Linked DNA regions of Homo sapiens. The protein of the gene in region 1 interacts with the protein of each later gene in a pairwise test. Each region holds a gene or a part of one and is shown on either strand. Other genes may lie near its edges.

What was found.
Region 2: the proteins of NUDT10 (region 1) and PDLIM7 interact in binary tests that used the Homo sapiens proteins (3 or more experiments, as listed by UniProt).

Annotation. Positions count from the first base shown.
Region 1 is NC_000023.11:51,328,066-51,335,864, forward strand, and holds the start of NUDT10 (diphosphoinositol polyphosphate phosphohydrolase 3-alpha), read left to right. Parts: upstream 1-4,756; 5' UTR 4,757-4,900; coding exon 4,901-5,394; intron 5,395-7,799. UniProt on the Homo sapiens protein: Cleaves a beta-phosphate from the diphosphate groups in PP-InsP5 (diphosphoinositol pentakisphosphate), suggesting that it may play a role in signal transduction.
Region 2 is NC_000005.10:177,482,800-177,487,630, reverse strand, and holds the end of PDLIM7 (PDZ and LIM domain protein 7), read left to right. Parts: intron 1-3,440; coding exon 3,441-3,561; intron 3,562-3,648; coding exon 3,649-3,764; intron 3,765-3,900; coding exon 3,901-3,987; 3' UTR 3,988-4,237; downstream 4,238-4,831. UniProt on the Homo sapiens protein: May function as a scaffold on which the coordinated assembly of proteins can occur. May play a role as an adapter that, via its PDZ domain, localizes LIM-binding proteins to actin filaments of both skeletal muscle and nonmuscle tissues.

The DNA.
Region 1 (7,799 bases):
TCGCTATTAAATAGTTAACAGGTAAAATAACAACTATCCTTTGTGATCCATGTAGATCCTGTCATCATTTCTCATTCAATCAATATGCTTTAAATCCCTACTGGACACCAGATCCCAGGCACTGTGTTGACTCAGAGGGGAACAGACATGTTTCAGGCTGGTTCCCAGTCCTCAAATTTCTCACAAGCTTGCAGACAGATCATTACAGAGGTTCTTAATTAGAGCTATGACAGAATTAAAGTCAAGAAAGCCTGGAAAAACGGGGGGGGGTACTTTAATCCCAATGTAAAGGAAGGGCCAGCACATGGTCAGGAAAGCTTTCTTGGGAGAGGTGAAGTTCTGAGTAGGTAATTATCCCTCTTTACACCTGAGAAATACTAAGGTCAAAGATATTAACTCGCCTAAGGCTGCATAGCTACTGAGAGAGCAGGATTTAAATTTTAGTTCATTTGCATTTTAAAACACCGTATTTTTTTCTCATGGACTACTATCAAAATCACTTCCCCTGACTCTGCTTCCGTTAAGTATTCTGAAAGTTTCTCAGGTATGTTGCAGTCCCTCTTCTGATAGCTAGGTCCAGCTGTGAGTACAGTCAGGCTCTGAGAAGGTCTTTAACATTCCCAATCTCAGGTAACAGCTGTTTTTCAGAGCTCCTCTCTTAGGACTGTACTTCACTTAAAACTCAGTTACAAATGTCACTTTCCATTGCTTTCTCACTAAGTAAAGTAGCCAACTTCCCCGAGGATGCTTCTACTATTCCTGTCAATTGCCCATCTGCCTGCCCCTTCCTAATTCTGAAAAAAAGGCAGAGATGTGCATCCTAGACTTGTTGGTTTCAGGGTAGATCCTCTCCGCTTTCATCCTAGGGATTCTGCAAATTTACATGGAAGCTCCATTCTCTTGGGTGCCTGGATCTTCCAGGCAGAAAAAAGCTAGAAAGGAGGAAGACCATACCAAAAGGAATGACATGCACTGTCTATGTCAGCAACCCTTAACATAAGGGAAACATGCCATAGTGAATGCAAGATGATTACATCTGGACTCAGACAGACCAGGGTGTGGATCCCAGCTCCACCACTTCCCGGCTTGCTCACTTTAACCCATCTCAGCCTGTTAATCTGTTAAAGGGGATTTTGACACTTTTCAGGTTTGCTTGTACAAAAATATTAAGTGCATATAAGAAAGCAGACCATCCATAAATCAACATCATGGTCTAGTGTGATGACAGCATAGAATTTCTTTTTTTCTGTATCACTTCATTGCATTTTGTCTTGCAGGGGAAATCAAAGCCTCGAATCGTGAAGAAACATGTGGAGGTGACACAACAATTATTTGCTGGGAGTGAGAGAGGTACTCACATGCTCTTTTCACTTATTGTCCAGAAGAAGAACATCACGATGGAAACATACCTTTCACTGGAGTCATTGAATCTTAACTACTGAATACCTTACCCAAGAAGTCAATGCTGAATGTCATCAACAAAGGCCGCAACAACCATAGCTGTGGATAAGAAGAATCCTTCTCTTAAGACATGTTGATTTTTTGAGTGTGCAGGGTATGGAGACATGAAGCCTTAAACTCGAATACAAAATCCACTCTAAGTCCTCATTTTCTCTTCTGTAAAATGGACTTATGAACTGCCTCCCTCCCTATGAGTTAATGAGATAACAGTTAAATAGAATGCAGGGCGTAACACAGGACCTCTCACAGGGACTGTACTCAACACGTTAGATGTCTTAACTTCATCCCTTTCTGACTCCAGGGAAAGTGAAATGCCAGCATTTTTAAGTAGATGTTACATTTCTACAGCGAACAATCTTGTCTTTCTCTGATTGTTTTTGGTTGATTTTTATGTATCATGTCAATGGTTGGAGCAGCTAGTTTTTAATGCATAACAAAGCGCTGCCAAATTTTATGCTTTAAACAGTAAACTATTTTACTCACAATTCTGCAGGTCAATAATTTCAGCTGGTCCCATCTGAGTGGGTTTTCTTGTTTGTTTGTTTGCTTTTTTTTTTTTTTTTTTGCTGTTCATGGCTAGGCTTAGTTATGCATCTTCAGCTAGTGCTCTCTTATGACCTAAGTAGTTCTGCTTGTGGGCGAATGGTCTAGGATGGCCTCACCCATATGTTGGGCAACGGTTTCACTGTCAGCTGGGGTGAAAGGGAAGAATCTGCCACAGGTATCTCATCATCCAGCTAGCCTGGCCAGCCTTCCTCACATTGCTGTCACAATGTTTCAAGAGCGAAAAGAGAGAGGATACCCCAGTGTGCAAGCACCTTTCAGTTCTCTGCTGACTTCTGTTCACATTTGTTATTGTCCCACTGGACACAACAAATTACATGGCCAAGACCAGAAACAATGACAGTGTGGAAGGAGATACAGGCTTCCACGAACAAATTGCAGTTTCACTGTAACAATCTACTACTACAGTGATTCCTGAATTACACTGCTCATCATTGGAGAAATACTTAAATATGCAAAACCAGACAGAGGAATGCTGTTCTCTTAAAAAGGATTTTTACTATCGTTACAAAAGTCTTAGCTTTTCTTGCCTTGTTACTATATTATAGATGAATAATAAAGTTATTAGGCCATTCTCACATTGCTATAAAGAAATACCTGAGACTGGGTAATTTACAAAGAAAAGAGGTTTAATTGGCTCATGGTTCTGCAGGTTTTACAGGAAGCATGGTGCCAACAGTTGCTCAGCTTCTGGGGTCGCCTCAGGAAGCTTACAATGGTGGCAGAAGGCAGAGGGGGAGTAGATGCATCACATAGCGAAAGCATGAGCAAGACAGGGGAAGGTGCCACTTGCTTTTAAGTCACCAGATCTTGTGAGCACTCACTATCACACAGACAGCACCAAGCCATGAGGGATCCGCCCTCATGATCCAAACATCTCCCACCAGGCCCCACTTCCACCATTGGGGATTACAATTTAACATGAGATTTGGGCAAGGACAAGTATCCAAACTATGTCAGCTGTGAAAGTTTGGGGAAAAGGTAATTAAAAAATTCCCTTGCTATTGTATTAAGCCTGTTTTAAGTTGTGGGTCTCCATATCCAGACTTTTCCAGTAGGGTTTCAGTCTGTGCCTCTTTCCATGTTATAATGTCCTATTCCTCTTCCCTGCCACAAGTATGCCCCCGGAAGGGACCTATTGCAGAGGCACGGTGTGATGTAGAACTGATACTGATGGAATAGACTAGAAAATGGCACCTCTTTCTTGTGAGACAAAGGAGACAGTACCTGGCAATTGTGAAGCAGCCCTGCCCTGTGGCCGGAGCCTGGATTGGCCCCTCTCGAACCCAGACACCCCACTAGTCTGCTAGTTTTGCTAGAGTGTCTCGTGATTCATTCAAATCATGTTTCAAAGCTCTGAGTAGAAGTTCAACCATTTTGTACTACTAAGTCCTAACCACATTTTTAGGACCCCTTAGTATTTTATTTGTTTTGTGGTGGTTAATAGTACACTTTGGGAGGCCGAGGTGGGCGGATCGCGAGGTTAGGAGTTCAAGAGCAGCCTGACCAACATGGTGAAACCCGTCTCTTCTAAAGCTACAAAAATTAGCCAGGCGTGATGGCACCCGCCTGTAATCCCAGCTACTCAGGAGGCTGAGGCAGGAGGATCGCTTGAACCCAGGAGGCGAAGGTTGCAGTGAGCTAAGATCGTGCCACGGCACTCCAGCCTGGGCGACAGAGCGACAGAGTGAGACTCCATCTCAAAAAATAAAATAAAATAAAATTGTGAAATAGGACGGGATCTCCATGTGCATGGTTTCCCAAACACCAAGTGGTGCTTATCAAAGAGAAAGATAGAGAAGGGTGGAGTGTGTGGAGAATAGGAGAACGTCTCTGGGCTTTAACGCAGGACTACTAGATGGGTGGTGCTCTGGTCTTTAAGGTGTACTGCATCGAAGTGCAAATGGCTGCAACACGGAGGCGAGGAGTGTACCCATGAGGAAACTGAGGTGCAGGGAGGTCAGGCAGGTTGTGAACAGGGGTTTAAGAAAAGCGTTAAATTACTGGCTGCGCCAAGATGCTCTGCAAGGTGGGAACCTGTTGAAGAAATAAAACTGCATCATGTGACTCAGCAAAGATGCCCGGCTACTGTGCCAAGAATCCCGTGGGTTGTGCAGACAACACTAGGGCCCAGGTCCCATGAGTAAGCCAGAATGGTTGATAGTGGGGGAGGATGATGACGACGCTGCCTTTGCCCCTGTCTTGTGTGAAACAACTGCCTGTGGGTTTCCTGCAGCGCAGTGGGGAGTGAGAGGAGAAACGTCCTGCCGTGCCACAGTGAGTTTGGGTCAAAGGCACACATGGAGGCAGTCTTGGCCAAAGTCACAATGCGGTGAATTTCGCTGTGCGCCAAGGAGGTTCCTGGCCCCAGGAGTGCGAAGCGCCTGCGCAGTGGGCCCCAGGCGTTGCGCGCTGCGGGAGCCAGGAGACCCCCGCCCCTGGCCCCTCGCCCCGGTTCCTCGCCCCTCAGCCCACGCCCTCCCCTGCGAACGCGCACGTGAACGGGAGCGCGGACGCGCCCGAGAATGCGCTTCACCTCGCAGAAGCGGGTGGGCTCTGTGGAGAGTCGCGGGCTCGCGGGCAGCAGCGCCTCCTCCACTCCGGCGGGCCCGGGTTCGGCCGGCCGCCCATCGGACTGGCGGACTGGCTGACTGACACGCCTCGCTTGCCCCCGCCTCCGCCCGTGCCCCGCCCAGCTTCATCTCTCCCTCCGCTCCCCGGGCTCGGGGGCAGACGGCAGACGGAGGCGCCTCTCTCTCCCCGCCCCTCTCCTCGGCCCTTTCTCTTCCCAGCACCTCGGCTGCTGCCCGGCAGCGGCAGCAGCTGCGTCGGCGGCCCACACAGCAGCGAGAGGCGAGAGGAGGCTGCCTCGAGGATGAAGTGCAAACCCAACCAGACACGGACCTACGACCCCGAGGGGTTCAAGAAGCGGGCGGCGTGCCTGTGCTTCCGGAGCGAGCGCGAGGACGAGGTCCTGTTAGTGAGTAGCAGCCGGTACCCGGACCGCTGGATCGTGCCGGGCGGGGGCATGGAGCCCGAGGAGGAGCCGGGCGGTGCGGCGGTCCGAGAGGTGTACGAAGAGGCGGGAGTCAAGGGGAAGTTAGGCCGGCTCCTGGGCGTCTTCGAACAGAACCAGGACCCCAAGCACAGAACGTACGTGTATGTACTGACTGTCACGGAGCTGCTGGAGGATTGGGAAGATTCGGTTAGCATTGGGAGGAAGCGAGAGTGGTTCAAAGTCGAAGATGCCATCAAGGTTCTCCAGTGCCACAAGCCCGTGCACGCCGAATATCTGGAGAAACTAAAGCTGGGCGGTTCCCCAACCAATGGAAACTCCATGGCCCCATCCTCGCCAGATAGCGATCCCTAGTATGTACCGCTTGCGCCCGCACAGACTTCTGTTTGTCTGCCTTGCTTAAAATGCATCCCGCCTGGAGCACCTCTCGTACCATGTGCGGTCTCATGGGCAGGAGGGAGGCTTTTGTTTCCTTGGCAGACCCTCTGAATCACGCTTGCAAACTGTTGCCAGGCCCTGTTTTCAGTTGGCACGTTTTTCAGTTGCTTTCAAAATCGCTTCTTGGTTACCCTGTAAAATGTTTCGGAGAAGCCTATGCCGCTTGGGGTTTTAGGTGCTGTAACTGTTCACCCTGCTTTTGGGCGGGGGGGGGGGGGGTGGGGGGCGAGGGGTGGGCGGGGAGTGTGTGTGTCTGCCTGTGCGCCCTGTGATGTTTTTGGTTCTTTTATATTTCACACATATTCGTGGGTGCGTGCACATTTTTGATACCAGCCTTGTGGTTTGTTTGGTAGTGGAGGCCTTTAAAGTCTGACCAGCTTGGTTGTGTGGCATCTTTTAGTATTTTTTTCCCTTGAGTTGTTTTCTCCTTCACAGCGTTCGCCCTTGTTGTCAGGGAGGCCTTCTGTGGTGGGAGTTGGTTTAAAAAATCAGTTTTGAATTCGTAAAAACATTAGGAAATCCTACATCTTGTGCTCTTTCTGCACTCGACAGTCGCTCTAGCCTCTGAAGTGGTATCTCATTTGCCCCTTTCAGAAATTTCTTTTTCTATTTCTATGTAGGTCATTTGGTTTTCAAAAAATTTTCACAAGTAATTTTTCACTGCTGACTTTAAATCGCTATTTCCCATGTAGATTAACCTTACTGAATAGATGCTGCTGGGGATCTGCTAGCCAAACGCATCTGATCAGAAAAACTGTATTCACAGAATTTGATTTCCCATACTCAACTTCCAACTCCCATTGCCCCTTACTGGATACCATAGAAGAACCATGGTTCTCTGGATTTAAGTTTGTTTTTGAAAGAAAGTGGTTTCCATTCCATATTTGAATGTAGTGACATTCCGCTTAACCTCCCTGACTCCCAGTAACCACAGGAATGGAATCTTTTGTGGTGATTACATCCCAACAGAGTTAGCTCTAGCGATGTTCAGCTGGTACAGAATTGTCAAACTATTAGGATTCCTGAACAATCTCTCAATGATAGAGAGTAATTGTTTTGTCTCACAGTACCACCTTTTCTGGGTGCCAAATTAAAAGCTCTCACGTTTGCCTCAGTACTTGCTTGAAGTCAGGAATCCCATCTAGAATAGCTAAATCTCTCTTCTGGACCTTCCGCTGTTCCCCCAGCCATGTCTGACATTAGGTAGAAGGAAAACCTATTTTGTGAAGAGGGTATTCGAATGAAAAGATCATTCCTAATTTCTAGAGCAACCTAGACTATGTCATATCTCTTAAACATTATTGACAGGTATTGGGGTCCCTTAACTTTTTTTTTTGAGATGGAGTCTTGTTCTATGGGTCACTGTTACGCACTTTCTATTAAGAAATTTTGGGTTTCGCTATGTAAATTCTAGGTTCCTCTTCTGGATTTCATCTCCCATGACAGTTGAGGAAATGTCTAGTTTTTGAAGAGAGTATGGGTGGGGGCTGGGGGACCGGGCGCGGTGGCTCACGCCTGTAATCCCAGCACTTTGGAAGGCCGAGGCGGGCAGATAACGAGGTTAGGAGATCAAGATCAGCCTGGCCAGCATGGTGAAACCCCGTCTCTACTAAAAATACAAAAACTAGCTGGGCATCGTGGTGTGCGCCTGTAATCCCAGCTACTCGGGAGGCTGAGGTAGGAGAATCGCTTGATCCCGGGAGGCGGAGGTTGCAGCGAGCCGAGATCGTGCCACTGCACTCCAGCCTGGGCGACCGTCTCAAAAAAAAAAAAAAAAAAAAAAGACTGATTTTCCCCCTCGTCCCTGTCCCCCAATGGACAAGTGCCTACTTTTTCTTATTCTAAAAAAAATTTGAAGACGACATGTTGGAGTAAAGGTAAGTTTGGTTGCTTGATACAGAATTTGCTCTGGATGGTTAACATATTTTCTAAGAAACCTATGTTCTGTTGATCAGGTCACCTTTGAAAGAAGTAACCCTGAAAGGGGTGAAAGGTGGCCATAAATATTTTTAAGTCCTGTAGAAAATTGATAAAAATTGAAGTGTGTATGTGTAAGAGCTTGTAAAGAAACAGCAACATTAGAGGGCCCTTGTGGGATAGATGGTTTAAAGGGCTCTGATGCTGGAGCTGCTCCTTGTCTCACTTGCCTTTAAGTGGAGTTCAATTGTAAGAAAAAGCATGTCCTCCCTCCATAGTTGTTGACTGGGAAAAGGGAGATTAGAGCTTACAGCACTAACAGCTGGCCAGAGTTTTATTTTTCAGAGTTCCTTTTGTGGAAGCATCAGTCAAAACAAATATTCTCAGCATCATTCTTGTATTG
Region 2 (4,831 bases), on another chromosome or scaffold:
TGGGAAACTCAAAATAATGGTGGCTTATTTCTCATCTAAAAACATCCCGGGGTGGGTGGTCTGGGACTGATCTGGTGGACCCAGGCTCCGCCTTGTTGCTTGACTGTTGGCAGCACCTGCTTACTTACCACTCATGGTGCAAGATGACACTTCAGCCTCCGCCAAAATGCTCACCTTCCAGCCAGCAGGAAGTCGGAAGGAGAAGAAAGGGGACAGAGCCCCATGGCGTCCATCCTTAGAGGATGCTGCCACCTGAACCTCTGCTTTCATCCTGTTGGTCAGAACCCAGTCACATGACCACACCCAGTGGCAACGGAGGCTGGGAAATATAGTCTTTATTTTGGGCACCCATGTGTCCAGCAAAACTGGGGGTTCCATCAGTCGGCAAGAATGGGAGAGTGGCCGATGCAGTGGCTGATGCTTGTATCCCAGCACTTTGGGAGGTCGAGGTGGGCAGATCACCTGAGGTCAGGAGTTCAAGACCAGCCTGGCCAATATGGTGAAACCCTGTCTCTACTAAAAATAAAAAAATTAGCTGGGTGTGCTGGCGCACCTGTAGTCCCAGCTACTTGGGAGGCTGAGGCAGGAGAATCGCTTGATCTTGAGAGGTGGAGGTTGCAGTGAGCCAAGATTGTGCCACTGCCTTCCAGCCTGGGAGACAGCAAAAAAAAAAAAAAAAAAAAAAAAAAAAAAAAAAAAGGGCCAGGCACGGTGGCTCACACCTGTAATCCCAGCACTTTGGGAGGCCGAGATGGGCGGATCACGAGGTCAGGAGATTGAGACCATCCTGGCTAACACGGTGAAACCCCATCTCTACTAAAAATACAAAAAAATTGGCCGGGCATGGTGGAGTAGTCCCAGCTACTCGGGAGGCTGAGGCAGGAGAATGGCGTGAACCTGGGAGGCAGAGCTTGCAGTGAGCCGAGATCGCGCCACTGCACTCCAGCCTGGGCGACAGAGCGAGACTCTTGTCTCAAAAAGAAAAAAAGAAAGAGAAATCTGCCTCCCAGCCTTGGGCTCCTGCCCTACCAGCCCACACCCCTGGTAGAGCCCCCTCTCCCACCAGCTCAAAGCCCAAGTTCCTTCACTGTGACCTTGTCTGCTCCTCTAAAACAGGCAACACCAGACAGTGAGAAGAGCCAGCCAGACATGGGCAGAAAACCTATTTCTGTGATCTACTGGCTGTGTGAGCAGGGGCTAGTTGCTCTCTCTGGGCCTCACTGAAGAGAAGGGTGGCACTATGCTAGGGCCGGCACGGTTGCAAGGTAGATGTAAGATGGGGTACAGGTGTTGTGGAGGGCAGAAATGCACCATCCGAAGGCTACATGTCCCCCACACTTATGTCTTGCTTGGCCCACACTGTTTCATTTTAAAATCAGTAGCAAACAATTTAAAAAATCAGAAGATTTGCCTGCATGATGCAGTGGCTCATGCCTGTAATCCCAGCACTTTGGGAGGCCAAGGTGGGAGGATTGCTTGAGCCCAGGAGTTCAAGACCAGCATGGGCACCATAGCAAGACCCCTGTTTCTACAAAAAAAAAAAAATTAGAAAATTAGCCAAGTGTGGTGGCATGCACCTGTGGTCCCAGCTACTTGGGAGGCAGAGGGAAAGTGAGATCTCCTGCTTTTTATTTCTTTATGTATAATGATAGGGTCTTGCTCTGTTGCCCAGGCTGGAGTGCAGTGGCATGATCACTGCTCACTGCAGCCTTGATCTCCTGGGCTCAGAGGATCCTCCCACCTCAGCCTCCCAAATAGCTAGGACTAGAGGTGCCCACCAGCATGCTCAGCAGATTTTTAAATCTTTTTGTAGAGATGAGGTTTTGCTATGTTGCCCAGGCTGGTCTCGAACTCCTGGCCTCGAGCGATCCTCCCACCTTGGCCTCCCAAAGCACTGGGATTACAGACGTGAGCCACTGCGCCCAGCAGATTTCTCTTTAACACCTAGATTTCAGCCTGAGCCAGGCAGGCATTCCTGAATGAACCAGTAGTACTGCTCCCAGAAGAAGAGGTCCTCCTCCGTGTGACACAGTCCCCACTTGGCCCTTGCAGGGATTGGATCTGGGATCCCTGGATTTAAACTCAGGGCCATCCTCATAACAGCCTCACAAGGCTGGGATTAGCTTCCCAGTTCACAAGGGAAGAAACCAAGACTTGAGAAGGTCAAGGTCTGGCCAGACCCACACATCTTGGACCCTCATACCGCCTCGAGGCCCCATGCTGCCCTCTGCCTGCTCCAGATGTGAATACTGCTGGCCCTGGCTGGCCCCGGCTGGCCCCGAGGGTCCTAGGGATGAACAGCCCAGCCCAGGGAGAGCTCAGCCCCTTGTGCCTCTGCCCCTTCCCACCTCCTGCGGAGGCCAGTCGACTCACCCACAAAGGGCCAGGCACTGTGGGGATAGATCAGCTAACAAAACAGTTGATGCTTCCTGCCCTTCTGGGCCTTACATTTTGGCTGGAAGAAGAGGGGAGAGGCAGACTGTAAGCAATAAGCGCAATAAGTAGGTTGCCTGGAAGTAATGTTAGATCACGTTACGGAAAACAGGAAAGAGCAGAGCGACAAGTGCTGGGGTGCGTGGTGCAGGGAAGGCAGCTGGCTGCTGCTGGTGTGGTCAGAGTGGGCCCTCATGGAGAAGACTGCATTCGAGCAGAAACTTGAAGGGGGTGAGGGGTGAGCCTAGAGATATCTGGGGCAGAGCAGTCCAGGCAGAGGGGACAGCCGGTGTCAAGCCCAGGACAGGAGTGTGCCTGGTGTGCCAGTTTCAGGCAAGAGGCCAGTGTGCAGAGGCAAGGTGAGAACGCAAGGGAGAGCAGTGGCGGAGACGGTTGGGAACGAGGTCAGACCTGCTGGCCTCCAGCCTCTGCATGGGGCTTGGCTCTTGCTGGGAGCAATGGGAAGCAGTACACAGTTTCATGCAGGGGGAGAAGGCCTGTCTTGGGTTGCAGGGGCACGCTGTGGCAGCTGGGATCAGAGAGAGGAGCTTGTAGGCCAGTTGTTATGTGGTCCCACGGGCCAGATGGCCATGGCTTACCTCACTTCAGGGAGGCTGTGAGAAGCACTCAGAATCTGGATGTGCCTTGGGGGTGGGCCCCACTGGATTTCCTGGTGGACCTGGTGTGGGGTGTGAGAGGAGGGTGTGTTTGGCTGCAGCAGACAGGAGAATGGAGTTGCCATCCGCGTGATGGGGATGGCTGTGGGAGGAGAGGTTTGGGGTGAGGGAATCAGGAACTGAGTGCTGGACATGGCAAGTCTGAAGGCGCAGTGGTCGTCCACTCAGAGACCTTGGAGTTGGAGATGGAGGTGTGGGAGTCCTGAACAGTTAGATGTAGTGTTTACCGCGAGAAGGAACAGGGCTTGCGGCCAGCCCTCCTGTGTTCCCGTGACCCAGGGCAGGGCAGGAGGGGCCTGAGCCTGCCGAGTGACTGGGACCTCCTTCCAGGAGATCATGCACGCCCTGAAGATGACCTGGCACGTGCACTGCTTTACCTGTGCTGCCTGCAAGACGCCCATCCGGAACAGGGCCTTCTACATGGAGGAGGGCGTGCCCTATTGCGAGCGAGGTACCCACTGGCCAGTGAGGGTGAGGAGGGATGGTGCATGGGGCAGGCATGAATCCAGGTCCTCTTTCTCTCTGCCCCCATTCTCAGACTATGAGAAGATGTTTGGCACGAAATGCCATGGCTGTGACTTCAAGATCGACGCTGGGGACCGCTTCCTGGAGGCCCTGGGCTTCAGCTGGCATGACACCTGCTTCGTCTGTGCGGTGAGAGCCCCGCCCCTCGAACTGAGCCCCAAGCCCACCGGCCCTCTGTTCATTCCCCAGGAGATGCAGGAGAAGTTGGGAAGGGGCCTCTCCTGCTGCCCCCAACCCCATGTGACTGGGCCTTTGCTGTCCTTAGATATGTCAGATCAACCTGGAAGGAAAGACCTTCTACTCCAAGAAGGACAGGCCTCTCTGCAAGAGCCATGCCTTCTCTCATGTGTGAGCCCCTTCTGCCCACAGCTGCCGCGGTGGCCCCTAGCCTGAGGGGCCTGGAGTCGTGGCCCTGCATTTCTGGGTAGGGCTGGCAATGGTTGCCTTAACCCTGGCTCCTGGCCCGAGCCTGGGGCTCCCTGGGCCCTGCCCCACCCACCTTATCCTCCCACCCCACTCCCTCCACCACCACAGCACACCGGTGCTGGCCACACCAGCCCCCTTTCACCTCCAGTGCCACAATAAACCTGTACCCAGCTGTGTCTTGTGTGCCCTTCCCCTGTGCATCCGGAGGGGCAGAATTTGAGGCACGTGGCAGGGTGGAGAGTAAGATGGTTTTCTTGGGCTGGCCATCTGGGTGGTCCTCGTGATGCAGACATGGCGGGCTCATGGTTAGTGGAGGAGGTACAGGCGAGACCCCATGTGCCAGGCCCGGTGCCCACAGACATGAGGGGAGCCACTGGTCTGGCCTGGCTTGGAGGTTAGAGAAGGGTAGTTAGGAAGGGTAGTTAGCATGGTGGCTCATGCCTGTGATCCCAGCACTTTGGAAGGCCAAGGTGGGCAGATCGCTTGAGGTCAGGAGTTCGAGACCTCATGGCCAACACGGTGAAACAGCGTCTCTAGTAAAAATACAAAAATTAGCCGAGTGTGGTGGGGCATGCCTGTAATCCCAGCCACTCAGGAGGCTGAGGCGGGAAAATCACTTGAACCTGGGAAGTGGAGGTTGCAGTGAGCTGAGATCACACCACTGCGCGCGAGCCTGGGTGGCAGATGGCAGAGCGAGACCCTGCTTCAAAAAAAAAAAAAAAAAAAAAAAAAGAAGGGTAGTTGTAGTTGGGGGTGGATCTGCAGAGATA